Linked DNA regions of Homo sapiens: region 1 is linked to region 2. The links come from fine-mapping of genetic effects on gene expression. Tissue or cell type: whole blood. Region 2 holds a variant in brackets; the other region holds the start of a gene. All regions are shown on one strand. Distances are between the middles of the regions.

Region 1 (8,184 bases), 28 kb after region 2:
AAATAAAAGATAAAAATACGAAATAAAAATTTCTCAACATAAGCTCCATCAAGTTCAAGACACTCTTGTGAGCAATGATACTAGCCATCATTTAGTCCATCCCTAAAGAACTGAGGGACCTGGGAATTTAACAATGTCAGTGCAACCATTTCTTTCTTTTTCTTTCTTTTTTTTTTTTTTTTGCATTATTACTGAAGAAAAATGGGTGCCCTGTAAAGATTTGTTAAGATAAGAAATAAAAAGAAGTCAGAAGGTGCCAAATCAGGACTGTAAGGTGGATGCCTAACATGAAAACTCTCATAAAATTGCTCTTGTTTGATGAGAGGAATGAACAGGAGCATTGTCATGGTGGAGGAGGATTCTCAGGTGAAGGTTTCCTGGGTGTTTTTCTGCTAAGTCTTTGGCTAATGTTTTCAAAACACTCTCATAATAAGCAGATGTTATCATTCGTTGGCCCTACGGAAAATCAACAAGCAAAATGCCTTGACCATCCCAAAAAACTGTTGCCATGACCTTAGCTCTTGACTAGTATACTTTTGCTTTGACTGGAGCACTTAACACCTCTTGGTAGCCATTGCTTTGATTGTGCTTTGTCTTCAGGATTGTACTGGTAAAGCCATATTTCATCTCTTGTTACTTCAAAGAAATGCTTCAGGATCTTGATGTTACTTGTTTCCAATTTTCATTGAAAGCTCTGCTTTTGTCTGCAGATGATCTAGAAGCAATGGTTTTGGCATACATTGTGGGAAAGTTTGCTCAACTTTGATTTTTTCAGTCAGAATTGTGTAAGCTGAATCAATTGAGTTGTCTGTGGTGTTGACTATTGTTTCTGCTGTTAATTATCAGTCCTCTTTAACTAGGGCATGAAAAAGATGAATTTTTTCCTCACAAATTGATGTGGATGGCTTGCCACTATGGGCTTCATCTTCAACATCATCTCATCCCTTCTTAAAACGAGTTACCCATTTGTAAATTGCTGATTTCTTTGGGACATTATACTCCTAAAGTTTTCATAAAGCATCAGTGGTTTCACCATTCTTTCACTCAAGTGTCACCGTAAACTTGACACATTTGTTCTTGCTTCAATTTTAGCAAAATTCATGTTCCTCTCACAGGGGCTGTTTTCAAGCTGATGTCTTACCCTTCTGGGAGCCTCACACTAGATTCTGTTCAGACATGTTATAAAAAGTTAGTATGAGTTTATCTGGCAAAAAAAAAAAAAAAATTTGAATACATGCATAGTTTTCTCATAATATATATTTTCCATGAACTTTTGAAAACTTCTTGAGATATACACACAAGCCCAACATAGATTCTTCCACATTACTCTTTTCTAAAGCCTCTTTATCCCCATAATTCCATAAAATAATATATAACAGACTTGGCTTTGGCTTATTGGACTCTTAGTCCAACTTAGTTGTTTTTCAGCTTTAACTTTGGTGACTCATTTGTGCTCAGTTCTGATTCAGACAATGGAAAACTATTTTAGCAAGAGCTGAACTGATTTTTATTCCCCTGTTGATGTCCAAAGCTCAGCCCACCGTCATGCACTGTGCATTCACATTCTCTGTTTCTGCAAGCTTTGCTGGCCAATTTCACCAACGAACGTTGAATTGACCAAACATGTACTAAGTGCATTCTGCAGACATAACGGAGACTGAATTTTGGAGATCTTTGCTTCCCAAAGAATCCCCTGAAAAAAAAAATTTTTTTTTTACTTCTACTAAGTAGCCCAGTTTTCCAATCACATGAATTTTCTGGAATATTTTTGGAGAGAAGCAGATTTATTGAAGAGCTGTTCTTTTTTACCCCAGATATAGACAAAGTTAAATTTATTCTCTGAATATAAATCATCAGAGTAAGAAGGTAAGATTTAGTCAAGAAGATACATTTGTTGGACTATGGGTTCATCTGTGTGCAACAGAGACCTAAAGTTTCAATGGCTTAAGCAGTATTGAGGTTTATTTATCTTCCATGACAGCGTGAGAGTTTGCAGCCAAAGACTAGTATGGCGGGTCCATGGTGTCAAGGACTGCCAGGTATCTCCCATCTTATTGCTTCATTATCTCTAGGGGATGGCCCTCATCTGCATGGTCCAGGCAGGAAAGAGGAGGATAGGAATAACCCCACCCCAGAGGCTGCACCCAGCACTTCCCCTTACATACACACACACACACACACACACACACACACACACATTCCAGCTGCAAGGAAGGCTGGGAAATGTCTTTATTTTGTACAATCAGTAAAAACTGAGATTCTATCAATAAAGAAGGAGGGCAGACATTGGAGAAAAACTAGTAGACTTTCCAACATATTCCTGAAAAATTTTAAATTTCAGAAGGGGCTATAGGTGGGCCAGGCAGGAAAGAATCATTATCTCACCCAAAGAATGACATCGGGCTTCAAGTATCTAAGCCACCATCAAAAAGGCTGGTGCTCTTCCAGGTTTTTCTTTAAAGGGCATCTGTCAGGCTGGGGAGAACACTTCTCTAGGTGGCCTTGAGCCAGTATTATTGGCCCACTCAATCAGAGCTGCCCTGCAGCCTCGTTAGCACATCACAAGAACCCAGAGTGGAATTCTGGGATGGAAGAGCTGGACAGAAAGTGGAGAGAGAAGGTCCTCCCAGCGGCAAAGCTAATTAAAAGGAGAAACCTGTTTTCCACATGCACTCCTCAATATGCACACATGCTGCTTTCTTGTCATTACATGCCTCACTTGTCACCAAAGCATTTTCAATCAATTCCTGGGTGTTGTTCTTGTATCTTTAGATTTAGCGCATTCTTTCTTTAGTGCTCCTCCCTTTTATTCATCCAGCTGCTTAGAACAGTTTTCTTCAGCATTTAAACAAACCCACATACATTCCCCTCCCCCCATTTTCTTTTTTAAACAAAGCAAATGCTGCTTTCTTTTAACCGAAATAAAAGAGCCATAGACAATTCCATCTTTTAGGTCCACATGGCAGATCTCAAGTCAAGCATTCATTTTCTACCTGTGTGGAACTTTAATTAGTTTAAGTGGGAGGTCTGTGCCAAGAAACAGGCACCACATCACAGTTGGAATCTGCAGAGCAGATTGTTTTCTCTTAATAATGCTCTTTCAAACTCAATCCCGCTTGCAGTTTTGATACCAAAAACATGTGTGTTAAACAGCTACGAGTCGTTTCCGGGTCATTCGCATTAACCATGAGCTCTCCTGACAGTCTTGACCCATAACAGCAGACCTCTGTGTTTGAAGTGCTGTATAATTTACAAAGGACTGCACACACATCGTCACATGTCAGCTGCACACTTAGCCTGCTAGGAAATAATATCGCCCCCATTTTGGTGATGAAAAAATTGAGTCGTGGAATGGTTAAGTGACAGAATGAACTGAAACTGGATCCAGTCTGTCTGTGTTGCTAATGTAAGATGTTAAAGAACTGTCTATGGTTAAAAGAGAATGAGTATCTATTTTTAACAATGTGCTAAATGTTCTTTTCTTCTTTCCATGGTCCAAGATTGTCCTAAACTTTGATTTGATATAATTATTTTCCACAATCCTCTAAGTCAGGCTTTGAAATTCTTCTCTGCCTCTGGGTCTTAGTTTGCTTTGAGGTAAGGATGGCCAGTGTGGATCTTTCTTATATAATCTCTAGGTCTTATATTTTAGTTTCCTACCTGAAAATTTGTGATGCCACTTTTAATCTACGACGGTAAAGGAAAACAATTTCTCTTATATGCTATTTAAGAGTTAGGTATTTAAGATTAAAGGAACTATGTATAAATATCACTTATCCAGAAGTCTTCTGAATATTTCATTTCTCATGGAAATGCTGGATGTTTTTAAGCAACATTATCCATTATAAAACAATTCAAAAAGGGGGAAGAAAATCCTACAAAGATAACAAAAACTGTGAGGTTTTTTTTGTATGAAGTAGCCAATTTTCACAAAAAGTGCTGTTAGCGGTTTATAACACTGCTAGGAAATGTATTTTATATTAAAAATCGCTAACAGCACAGTCATTGTTTTCAAGATGCTTTAGAATGGGAAGAAATGTTCAATCTTTTTAACGTGTATCGGCATGTATAGGGTGTACTCTTTTAAAGAAAAATTTCAACTATTATAAAATCTAAGAAACTTTAAAACTGTGTCATTTATAATGTAAAATTAATGCAGCTGAGATTCAGTGGTTGACTCATAGCTCCCACATTCATCTTCAGTTCTCTTTAGCTCATATGGTTTTCTTTAAAAATTAGTGATATCAGCTAAATGGAACTATTTTCCACTCCTACCCACAGAGAAAAGTGCTTTTGTGAACATGTCAGCTCTGTTCCATCATTACATGCCATCATGCAGTGCAACAGAAGCAGGCTGGCTGTGCATACTTGATAACCAATATTAGTACAGATTTGAGAGCAAAATCCAAAGAAGATAATACTGTATTTCCATCTATTTATTTTATGCACATAAGCCACCTTTTTAGAACCAAGGAATTTTATAGCTAGACAAGATCTTGGAAGTCTTCCAATCTAGCCTCTTTATTTTGTACATATGGAAACTGAGGCACAAAGAGGTTCAGCAACTTCCCCAAGGTCACATAGCTGGTAGAGGTAGGCTGGGACTAGAACCCAGGTCTGTGTGACTCCAAAGTCTGTGCTCCTCCCACTATACTGCTTCACAGATAGGAGCTGATCTGCCTCAAATCTTCTGCCCCTTGGCCTTTCCACAACTCTGCATTGCTGCCATCTAACAGTGCCTTCCACTGGTGCCATGCTAAAGCTCGTTAGGAGGCAACTTAACATTGTTCTGTAAAAGCTCTACAGATGTAGGATGCTAGCTATCTGTTCTCCCCGGAAATCTTTTCAATTCAATTCTGCAAATAACTTAGGCTTTCCCAGACTAAGCAGTTCCTTCTCTCATTCCTGCAATTTGCTTTCCAGTTACCTTCTTCTGGACACATTCATTTCCAGTGCCCCTTCTGTTAAAATGGGCCCCACTAGAATCTCTGTTGCTGGGCACGGTGGCTCACGCCTGTAATCCCGGCACTTTGGGAGGCTGAGGCGGGTGGATCACCTGAGGTGGGGAGTTCAAGACCAGCCTGACCAACATGAAGAAACCCCATCTCTACTAAAAATACAAAATTAGGCAGACATGGTGGCACGTGCTTGTAATCCCACCTACTTGGGAGGCTAAGGCAGGAGAATCGCTTGAGCCCGGGAAGCTGAGGTTGTGGTGAGCCAAGATCGCTTCATTGCACTCTAGCCTGGACAACAAGAGCGAAACTCCGTCTCAAAAAGAAAAAAAAAATTGGCCCCACTCAAAATGGTACTCCTCCAAGTTGCTTTTTCATCCTTGTATTCCCCATGGTCATTCATCCCACTGCTGTCCTTCTGTCTCCAAGTCCTCTTTGCCTTGCTTCCTTCCCTCTCAACCCACAGCATCAGAGCAGTTTCTCCCCCAGCTGACCCTCTTTCCACTTTCAGTGCTCAATATTTTTTACTTTGCCTGTGGAAATGATCTCTTAACTGGTTTCCTTAAGTCCCTCCAGAAATGTTTTTCTAAACTCCAACAACTGTGCAAGGTCTAATTGCCATTGGTTTATCACCCACTGGACCCAGAAGCACCATCCTGGATTCTGCTTCTGCATACCCCTGTCAGCTCTGTGTCTTTAGGGACATCATTTAAACCTTCAGCTTCACTTTCTCCACTTATAGAATGAAGATGAGGAACAAGAACATCAATCTTTGAAATGATGCCAAGTATAAGCCTCTGTGTGTGTGTCTCCCCACTCCAATTTGTCCAACAGACTGCTTCCAAAGAAATCTTCCTAAAACACTGACCATCTTTTTTTTTTTTTTTTTTGGCTGCAAAATCTTTCATTTCCTCATCCCCTCACATAACTTCCAATCTTCTTGGCCTGGCACTAAGGACCTACTACAGACTGGCACTGAAATATCTTCCCTACCTTATCATTCCTTGTGCTTCTCCACAAGCCCACTCTTCCCCTTCATCATACATGTGCCGACCTTTCCTGTCTCTTTTACTTTGCAGCACCAAATGCTTTCTACTTTGTGGTCTAGGAGGAACACATGTCACTTTTGTAAGCTGCTCGAAAGCAGGGGCCACACCTTCATCCTTGTTTTCCACACAACACCAAGCACTTAGTAGACACCCAATAAATCATTGCTGAATGAATGTATTCAGCCTGGAATTGCACTAGGATTTTTTGGCCAACACATTGTATTCTTAACTGATACCAGACTTCCAATCAAATAAAATCCTTAAGCCTTTTTCATAGTCTTTAATTAAACTACTTCTCTTCCATTATTTCCCTTTGCCTACTTTTGAACTGATATTCAGAACTTTTCTGTTAATGTTTAATTTTCATCCATTATTCTTGTCTGTACAGATCTTTTTGATTTTTGACTCTCTTATCTAGTTTTTTTTTTTTTTTTTTGGCTTCCCGTTGTGTTATCCACAGGCACAATGGGTATATTGACTATCGTTCATTGAAGTTGTTGATACAAATGTTGAACAGGAGAAAAACCAGTAGCTTGCCAACTTGGCACCTCATTCTCTAGCTTGACAGTAATCTCTTATCTAGTAGTTTTTAGATATGGTTATTTAATCAAATATCACTAGCTTCTAATTTTGTTATAATTCATTCATGTATACAGACAATGAAGAATCATCTTTCTTCATTCAACACATTTATTGGGAACCAATCATTGTCCAAGGCAATATGCTAGGCATTGTGTAATAGAAAGCGATTAAGCTTTTACCCCTGTCCTCTTTGGCCTGCAAAGAGCAGGTAAGATTCATGCACAGACAAATGTAGTACCAGGTAAATAGTGAGGCCAAACACAAGAGGCAGGTCAAAGGGCTTTGGATTCAGAGGATGGAGAAGCTCTTTCTAGGCTGGTGAAATATTTGCAGAATGAGTAGGCTCATAAGTGGAGGTGAGGTACAGGCTAAGCTGCTGTAAGAAAGAGTCCAAAATGCAAAGGATTTACCACAATGCAGTTAATTTTTCTCACAACGGTCGAGGTAGGCAGGTGGTCCAAGTCCAGTTAATCAGCCCTCCTCAACACAAGGCTTCCCCTTGTAAGCTCAGGATGACCGCTCCAGTTCTCATCATCTCCCAGGCAGAAAAACGGGAGAAAGAGAACTAGACGTACCACCCAGTCATTTTAAGGACATAGCCAGGCCAGGTGCAGTGACTCACATCTGTAATCCAAGCACTTTGGGAGGTCGAGGCTGGAGGATAGCTTGAAGCCAGGAGTTTGAGACCAGCTTGGATAAGAAAGCAAGACCTTGTCTCTACAAAAAATTTAAAAATTAACCATGTGTGGTGGTGTGCACCTATAGTCCCAGCTACTCAGGAGGCTGAGGTGGAAGGATCACTTGAGCACAGGAGTTGGAGGATACAGTGAGCCATGATCACACCACCTCACTCCAGCCTGGGCAACATAGTGAGACCCCATCTCTTTAAAAAACAAAACAAAAAAACATCACCAGGAAGTTGCTTACATGTCTTCTATTCCTATAACATCGGCCTGAGCTTAGTCACATGGCCACACCCAGCAGAAAGAACTCTAGGAAATATGGTCTTATGCTAGGTAACCCCAAACCCAGCTAAAACTGTTGCTTTTGAAGAAGGGTGAAACAGACAATGTGGAGGAGAATTACCAGTCTGCCACAAAGAGAAAGAATTCTATGTGAGGAAAACGCTCTAGAAGAGGGAGCTGATTAATTAGTTATATCTCAGCCGAGAGGATGTTATGAGAAACACAGATTTGGGTTTAATAGAAAAACTTAGAACCCTTCAAGAAGGAATGGGCGGACTTGAGAGTGTCCTCCGCTTCTGAAAATGATCAAGAAAAATGGTAAGAATGTACACCTCAAGGGTGGATGGTAAAGGTCAGCCTTTAAGCCTCAATGGCGGTGTGGTTGTAGGTGGGGTGGGGGTGGAGGCCCCGAAGACAGGCAGACTACCACAGTAGCCCCGATGGAAGCAGTGAGAATGAACTGGAAGGAGCGGCTGTGGGAGCGACAACGTGATGAGAATAAACCCGGCTTGGCTCTGCCCTGTGCACACACAGGTGAGCTGTGTGCTCCCGGATGTGTCAGCTGGTATATGCGTCTGTCAGAAGGCAGCTGGGGAGCACTGTTAGCTCAGAGACTAAGAGGCAGACCCAGGA
Region 2 (8,184 bases):
TCCCTGGTGAAGTTGATACAAATCCATTGTATGTTCCTGTCCTGCAATGATTTACATTCAGTTACAGTACTAGTCAAAACTATATATATATGAATTCTACTTAGGATCCAATTTTGATATATTTAAAAAGCAATTGAGACTCATGATAGACTTTATGAGCAGGTTTAACTTGTGTGGTCGAATAAAAGCCTTTAATTTAAATGGAAAAGTAAAAGTAACTTTTTTCAGTGACTTGATTTTTTTTTTTGTTTTAATCCATTTGGGTTCACGTCAGATCATCGGTAACAAAAAGTGGTATCTTTCAGCTTTGTAAAAGAACCCTCTTAACCAAGTTCATTCCCTCAAATGGGAACTAACGTCTAGAGAGCAAAGAAACTTCTGGAATTAGTGGCTTGCTGATAATCTCATTTTATAATTTGTTCAGCAATCCAGCAAGACCAACTTTTTAAAAAAATTAATAACAGTAGTTTTATGAAAACTAAGTAAGAAAACAGTTTCCACCTATTTCTGAGGTCTCCTTTAGAAGGAGTAACAGACAGCTTTTATTTCTCTTAAAGTTATAAAAATCACAATCGCAAGTCACAATGAATACTGGGAAGGGAAATTACTTTTGCAGAGTGATCAAGTAAATGATAGCGGGGGCTAAACTTTTTTAGTAAACTTGTGAAGATTACATACAGTAAAGTGCATAAATCTTGAGTGTACAATTCAATGAATTTTTATAAGTAAACACACTTGATTCAAGAACATTTTCAGGACCCCATAAGTCCCCTTCATGTCCTGTCTTCCCAGTCATTACCCATAACCCCCAAGGTGACCCCTTTCACTATAGATTAGCTTTGCCTGTTTTGAACTTTAAATAATGTATATTCCCCACAACTGGCTTCTTTCCTTTAACATTGAGATACAACCAAGTTGTTACTTGTAACAATTTTTTGTTTGTGTGTTTGTTTATTTATTTTTGAGACCAGAGTCTCACTGTCGCCCAGGCTGCAGTGCAGTGGTGCCATCACGCGTCACTGCAACCTCTGCCTCCCGGATTCAAGCAATTCTCCACCTCAGCCTCCCAAGTAGCTGGAATTACAGGTGCCTACCACCATGCCTGCCTAATTTTTTTTTTTTTTTTTTTTTTTTGTATTTTTAGTAGAGACAGGGTTTCACCATCTTGGCCAGGCTGGTCTTGAACTCCTGACCTCATGATCCACCCGCCTTGGCTTTCCAAAGTGCTGGGATTACAGGCGTGAGCCACCGCGCCTGGCCACAATTTTTTAAATGCTGGGTAGTATTCCGTTGTATAAATACTATAAAAATATGTATACAAGTTGTGCATCCGTGTTACTATTGATGGGCATTCAGATTTTTTCCAGTTTTGGAATGGGCACTCAGAACATTTTGTACATGTCTTGGTGTACATAACATTTGCATTTCTATTGGGTATATACCAAGAGTGGAATTGCTGGCTCATAGAATAAACAGCTACCAACTAGTTTTCCACAGGGTTGTGTCAATTGATACTTTTGTAGCATTTATATGTGGGAATTTTAATACCTATAAATTTTTATTTGCCAGATATTTCTATAAAACTTAAGGCTTCAATTCTAAGAACGTTCTTATGCTTTGATTACTCTGTATTAGAGTAAATAAGCCACTCTAATGCTTCACCTTCTGTTTTTAGATATGGCTCGTGGACAGCAGAAAATTCAGTCTCAGCAGAAAAATGCCAAAAAGCAAGCTGGACAAAAGAAGAAACAAGGACATGACCAAAAGGCTGCTGCCAAAGCTGCCTTAATATATACCTGCACTGTCTGTAGGGTAAGGGGAATTGAATTGAAAGATACAGCTCTCCCGTGGGCAGTTTTGGCTTGAATAGATTAAAATTTTGAAACCATGGCAAAATAGATGCTTTACATGAAATAGTAGGTTTGAGAGCTGATTATTTTAGGTATCTATTTTCATTCACCCTTTAAACAAATATTTTTTGAATGGCTCCTGTGGCCAGGCAAAAATCTCTAGGTGCTGGGAAAACAGAGTGAACAAAACAAAATTGCTTTCCTCATATAAAATAAAGATGTCTTCATAAGGGCATATAATACACTTCACTAGCACATCATATAACTCTACACTCTTAGAGCTATATAATATGCTAGTAAGTATACCTCTAGTTATATAATTGGTTTTTTCTTCACTAAATTTATAATTAGGATGTCTGTAAAACCATATAGAGTATAATCACGTTGAGAGCTTTTCCTAGAATTAATGTGTTGTATTAGATTTGAAGAACTGTAATAATAACAGCTACTTTTGAGTGCTTACCATATGCCACACATAGAGCCAGGTGTTTTACATGTATTCACCTATTTAATCCACATAACAACCCTATAAGATAAAGTACTTTTATTGTTCTCATTTTACAGAAGAGTAAACTGACTAATGGAAATTAAACAATTTGTGTGGGGTCTCCCAGCTGGTTAGTAGAAGAGCTGGAATCTGAACTCAGGCAGTTCAGCTCCAGAGTCCACCCTCTGGACCACTACTGTACTGCCTCTCAAAGAAGTACTTCTGAAATTCCAAATCAGAGCCTCTTGCCTGTTTGTTTAAGCTCATTACCCTTGAAGTTAGTGAGTGGCAGTACCAAAGGAAACCATAGTGGAGTTAGTACACTACATATACACTCAAAATAATGAAATTGAGCAGCTTGTGATTGTTTGGAAAGAGGCAGGGTGCAAATTTTAATCAACTAGTAATGAAGAAATACCTTAATCTAAATGTGGTAGAGTAGTTACATATATTTAAAAACTCAAAACCACAGACTTTTATTTCATATTTTGTGTAATTTAATGGGTTAAGAATAAATAATTGAAGGTTCTTGCCAAGGGAAGTCAGTATAGTATAGTATTTGAGAGGTCACATATCTAGTACTAAGTTAAAATAAGGTCTTGGGCAAATTAAACTCTGGGTTTTAGTTTCCTTATCAGGTAAAATGATGCTAGTAGGAGCTAAAGATTACTTTGAAGGTTCTGTGGGAATTAAGGTAACATGCTTAATATAATAAGGGTTCAGTAAATGTTACCTATTGTTTGCTGTTAATCAGATAAGCAGAATACATTCTATGTGACCTACCTTTCTTTATAGGTGAAATGTGGGAACGTTAGGAATTTCTTTACCACAAAGTCCCTCTTCATATGCCAGTCACTAAGTTGTAGGAATTTAAAGGTGTTTTTGGGATAATTGTCTATACTGAGAAGGTTCAGGATTCTAAAAAGTAACACATTTTTATTTTATAAATAAAGTCTAGCTCTCTTTTGCACAATTTTTTGTTAGACACAAATGCCAGACCCTAAGACCTTCAAGCAGCACTTTGAGAGCAAGCATCCTAAGACTCCACTTCCTCCAGAATTAGCTGATGTTCAGGCATAAGGTTGTTTACAGGTAACTCACCTCTTTTTCTATTGGTTTGTTAATAACAGGGTTGTATACAAGACCAAAACTGTCTTCACTTATTGTGAAATTAATTTCTGCCTTCTGAGATTTTATTGCTTCCCCTTTTTAAGTTAATGTGTAACTGAAAAGTCCCTTTTTCTCAGACTATTTCCTTTCAATGCCTTTGAAACATCCAAATTTTTACTACTGTAGCCAAAAATGGGGAGATGAGTACATGCTAGCCATCTCTGATCAAAGAATGGAAGGAACTTATCAGTTTAAAGAAAATAGTGATTACAAAGTTATTTGAGAGTTTCCCTCTAAAAACAATGTACACCAATGTTCCTGAGCACCTCTTTACAATTAGTTTACTTATAGTACTTAGCAGAGGTTCTTTTTTTTCTCCCCCAACCTATCCCCTTAGCAAAGCTTCTGAGTATTAAAATATAGGGCAAAATGTAGATGTAGATATGTGCTATATAAATTTGTTTATAAATTTGTTGGTTGAAAGTTATCACTTTACACATTACATTTGGTTGGATTTTTTCCCCCTAAATAGTGGAGTTGGTGGTGGGTGTGTTGTGTGTTTCAGAATTCTTTCTTTTTAAAATAAATTCTTCAGAGTTCTGTATATAAAGTCGAGTTGACAAGTTTACCAGATATTATCTTCATAGTGTTTCTTCTTAGTTATTTGAAATGCATGTAAGTTGCATTTGTGCAATGGTAACATTCATTGAAAATTTTGCTTATGTTTTATAGGTGAATTCATGACACCTTTGACTCTTCTACTGTCTCAGACCTTAGGTAACATACCTGCAGCTGCTTTTCTAACAAACTGTTGATCAGCAAAAATAAAGGGGCTACAGAAACACTCATTTTTATGCTGTTCCCTCTTGGGCTTCATGCAAAGACA[A/G]TTCTGTGTAAATGTACAGTTGACTCTGATTTGGAAATATGAAAATCAGTCCATCCTTGTTATAAAAAATTTTTTTACAATTGTAATTATATTGATGTTCATATTGTGTAAAATAACTCATTTAATAAAATAGTACTTTGATTTACGACATCACAGGATAAATGGTTTTAGAAATTCTGTTCTAACTTTCCACATTATTTGCCTTATAAAAATCTAATGAATTCATCAGCTAGAATTGCAAGTGCAATTCTTATATCCCTTTCTCTGCTCAGTGGCAGGTTCCTCAGTTAAACTAGAGCAGACTGATTCATTAAAATTGTGCATACGATTTTATGGGCAGCTGATGATCTAGGTGAAAAATGACTTATCTGCTGCCTTAGTATATTGCGGTTATGTGTCATTGTACCCCTCTGATCATTTCCTGTGTTTGAGTTGGAATATTTAAAATTGCAGTATGACCTGGCTCTAACTGCCAGTCAGGTGTACCCTGTAGATAACTGATAGCTTCCTAAAAGCGGTTGGATTGTCAGTGAGCCCTTGTGAAAGGTTAGGTTCTAATGTATATGCCGTAATGAAATAATCATTAAGCCTATTGTTTAATGCAAAATATGGAACAAATGTGAACTGGTAAAGGTCGATCTTGATACTATATTCTTTGAAAATTCTTGAAGTTCTTTAATTTGAAATTGAAACATTAATTTTTGAGGTTTTTGGAAGTTACTATTTGGCCATTTTTACAAATGGATTTTGCATTAACAGGAAGATTGGAATGACTTGTGGCTGGATTAATTCCCAGAACCCTCTCCCTCCTTTCTTTTCTAAGTGAGTTGTTGATTTTAGGAGTTTGCTTTGTGCTGTTACCTAAAATCAGAGACTGGTGTACAGTATGACTTCCATCTGAACTTGAAAAGTATTAAAATGGGTCAATATTCACATTCTTTTAGATCTCAGGATGGGAAAATGGGTTTGTTCAGATGGATATGGTAAATCTTACCCAATTAAGGAAGGCTAATTTTAGAGTTCTTCTAATTTGCTTGTGTCAACTCTTAACTTGTAAAACTGCTGTTAACTCGGTTTAAATTTTTAAATTAATATAATAGAAAGAACACTAAAATACTTACTGGTAACTGCTTAGAGCCATTTATCTGATCCTGTGGATTACAGAATGCATTCCCTCTTCTGCTGTAGCTTATCATTGCTTTGTTTTGTAGCTCTGCATATTTTGCCCACCTTGTCTTCCCTGTAAGTTTAAGACGTTTCCAAGGAAAAGCTTCAGGGCTGATAGTTTCTTAGCAATTCCTATTCTTATGCCCTTACTTTAAAATAGTCCTTTTATTTTGTGTATTTTATTTCCTAAGTTTCAGATGTAATATCTGTTGTTTCCTAACATGTCGATTACCAGAACGTTAGAATTTTACCTAATTTCTTGTGGATATTGCAGAAGTTCTGGTTAAATCACAACTTAAAAGTTTTTAAAAGTGCTTTGAGCATATGTATATGTTTAGTGACAAATCATATAAAACCATTCACAAGTTTTGGTTTTTTTTTTTTCGTTTGTTTTAGTGACTAATTCAGGATGAAAGTTTTTTTGTTCTTGTATTTAACCCTTTTTTATAAGCAGCTGAAGACACCATATTTAACACTATATCTCAGTGATAGGGAAATAGCTGCATTGATCTTACATGAGCATAATCATCCTTATACTTCATGAGGGGATTATTAGTACAATCCCCATTTTACTGTGTTTGAGTTAAAAACCAAACATCCCTGTAATTTAATTTGAAGATTCTTTAACAGATTGCAGCAAAGTTCATTATAAAACTGTTATGGTGTCTTCAAAGACTTGATAAAATAACACTGAGAGAGAATTGGTCCATTTGTATGCTGTATTTCTATTACTTGCCAAAAGGAATGGGGTTAAGATTAAACTTGTTTCCATTCTCTTCACATGGATATTCATCCCCATGTTTAACTGACACACTGGGGGCTCAGTTGTGTGCTGTAATGTCTTATTAAAGAAGATATTAAAGAAAACTAAACTAGTCTAATTTCTTCTACATTTTAAGAGGTTTTTATATTCCCACTTTTTTTTTTCTCCTTTCTGAGCTTAGAATTGGCTCTTAAGTATAGGTTGGTAGATTTGAGGGTAGCAAGAGATTTCTTTCATTTCTCGTTTTCCCTGCAGTCTTTCCCTTTTTGAGGTCTGTAGAATACTTGGGTGGAAAAAAACTTGTCATTTTGAAACCTTACTGTATAGAATAAGTGTGAATTGTTGGAAAGGGGGAAGTGATTGGCTATTAACATAAAAATACAATTATGAAAAATACTTAGGTCAGTTAATTGAATTGGATGGGTAAGTCCTTGATGATATTGTAAGATTTGAAGTTTTAGTTTTATATTAAAGATACTATATAGGTAATTAATGACATCATAATTCAAACCTGAGATGCAGCATAAGATAGAATTTATCAACATTACTATTTTACCTAGGAAAACCCATGTTTTTAATTTTCATTAATATATGTAATGTGGCCAGGTGCAGTGGCTCACGCCTGTAATCGCAGCACTTTGGGAGGCTGAGGTGGATGGATCACTTGAGGTCAGGAGTTCGAGACCAGCCTGGCCAACATGGCAAGACCCCATCTCTACTAAAAATACAAAAATTAGCGGGGCCTAGTAGCACATGCTTATAATCCCAGCTACTCAGGAAGCTCAGGCAGGAGAATGGCTTGAACCCGGGAGGCGGAGGTTACAGTGAGCCAAGATCTTACCATTGCACTTCAGCCTGGGCAACAGAGCGAGACTCACTCTCTCTCTCTCTCTCTCTCTCTCTCTCTCTCCATATATATATATATATAATATACTGTACCTATTTTTAAATGTGGATAAAGGCCTTTTTCTATAACACAGTGATCAAACACAGTCCAAACTATAACTGAAATACTATATTTAAACCACCCAGTCTGAATTAATTCATTTGTACTAGATTTCTGGTTTTTTGGAAAGTGTTTGGTTTAGTTTTGGTCAGAGTACTTTTTTGGTCATGTACTTTTTAACAGTATATGGCAATGAAGATCAACACCAGGGAGTTGTGTTTACTGTGACTTCACATTCTGAAATAGTTTAGGCTACCTTAATTTTATTTATTGTAAAAGTTTCAGAAAAATCTTAAGAGCCTTCAGTTTGTAGGTTTAATGAAAACATCTGTCTACTTAACAAAGAAAATAGACTTTTTTAAATAAAAGTTCAACCTGTCATTTTTAATTGTAGATTGCCATGTTAAATTGAAAATATTTTTTATTTTAAATGTTGTTTTGATAAGTTTTTTTTACTGAGGTATCCTTCTTTTTTTTTTTTTTGAATAGCCATTTTTTAGCTTCTATTCTTTGAATACCGTATGGCTCCAAATTTAAAATCTGCACATTCGGAGACAGACTTTGGTCATTTCTTTATATTCACATGGGAATATCTTCAGTATGAAGTAATTGTTAATTCTGTCATTAACTAATATTATTTGAGGGTTGTAGGGAGGAAGAATATCTTTATCCCAGATCTTTCTAGGATGAACTCTTTGAGAAGTTTAAGTCACTAAGGTATTTATTGAAAATCATATATGTGAAGTTGCATTGTGAGCTGTAAAGTATTATATAAAAGCAATGTATTATACAAAGAAATATAGCAAAGTTCCCTAATCTTTGGAAATTCAGATGCATTCTGGAGATAATACATATATTTATTTACATAATTTTAGGCTATATGGCCAAGTGCTTGGTGTGTTTTATAGACAATAACTTAATGAGGTATATGTACATGTGTGCGTTTATGTGTATATAGGATGGCTTTGGGTTGAA

The links. PIP is the estimated chance that this variant, and not a neighbour inherited with it, causes the effect.
Region 1: ZNNT1 starts here. The variant in region 2 is fine-mapped to the expression of ZNNT1 in whole blood (TOPMed, PIP above 0.99).

What each region holds. Positions count from the first base shown.
Region 1 is chr8:101,167,155-101,175,338 of GRCh38, reverse strand. It overlaps ZNNT1 (ZNF706 neighboring transcript 1), which reads left to right and starts at 5,100. Exons shown (of 1, transcript NR_164368.1): 1 at 5,100-8,184. RefSeq lists an enhancer at 7,859-8,058.
Region 2 is chr8:101,195,235-101,203,418 of GRCh38, reverse strand. It overlaps ZNF706 (zinc finger protein 706), which reads left to right. Exons shown (of 4, transcript NM_016096.5): 2 at 1,676-1,812; 3 at 3,322-3,429; 4 at 4,180-6,367. The coding sequence starts at 1,678. The coding sequence ends at 3,417. Among named protein-coding and RNA genes, the nearest start is that of ZNF706, 6.3 kb to the left of the region's middle. The variant A/G (reference allele first, on the strand shown) is at 4,334.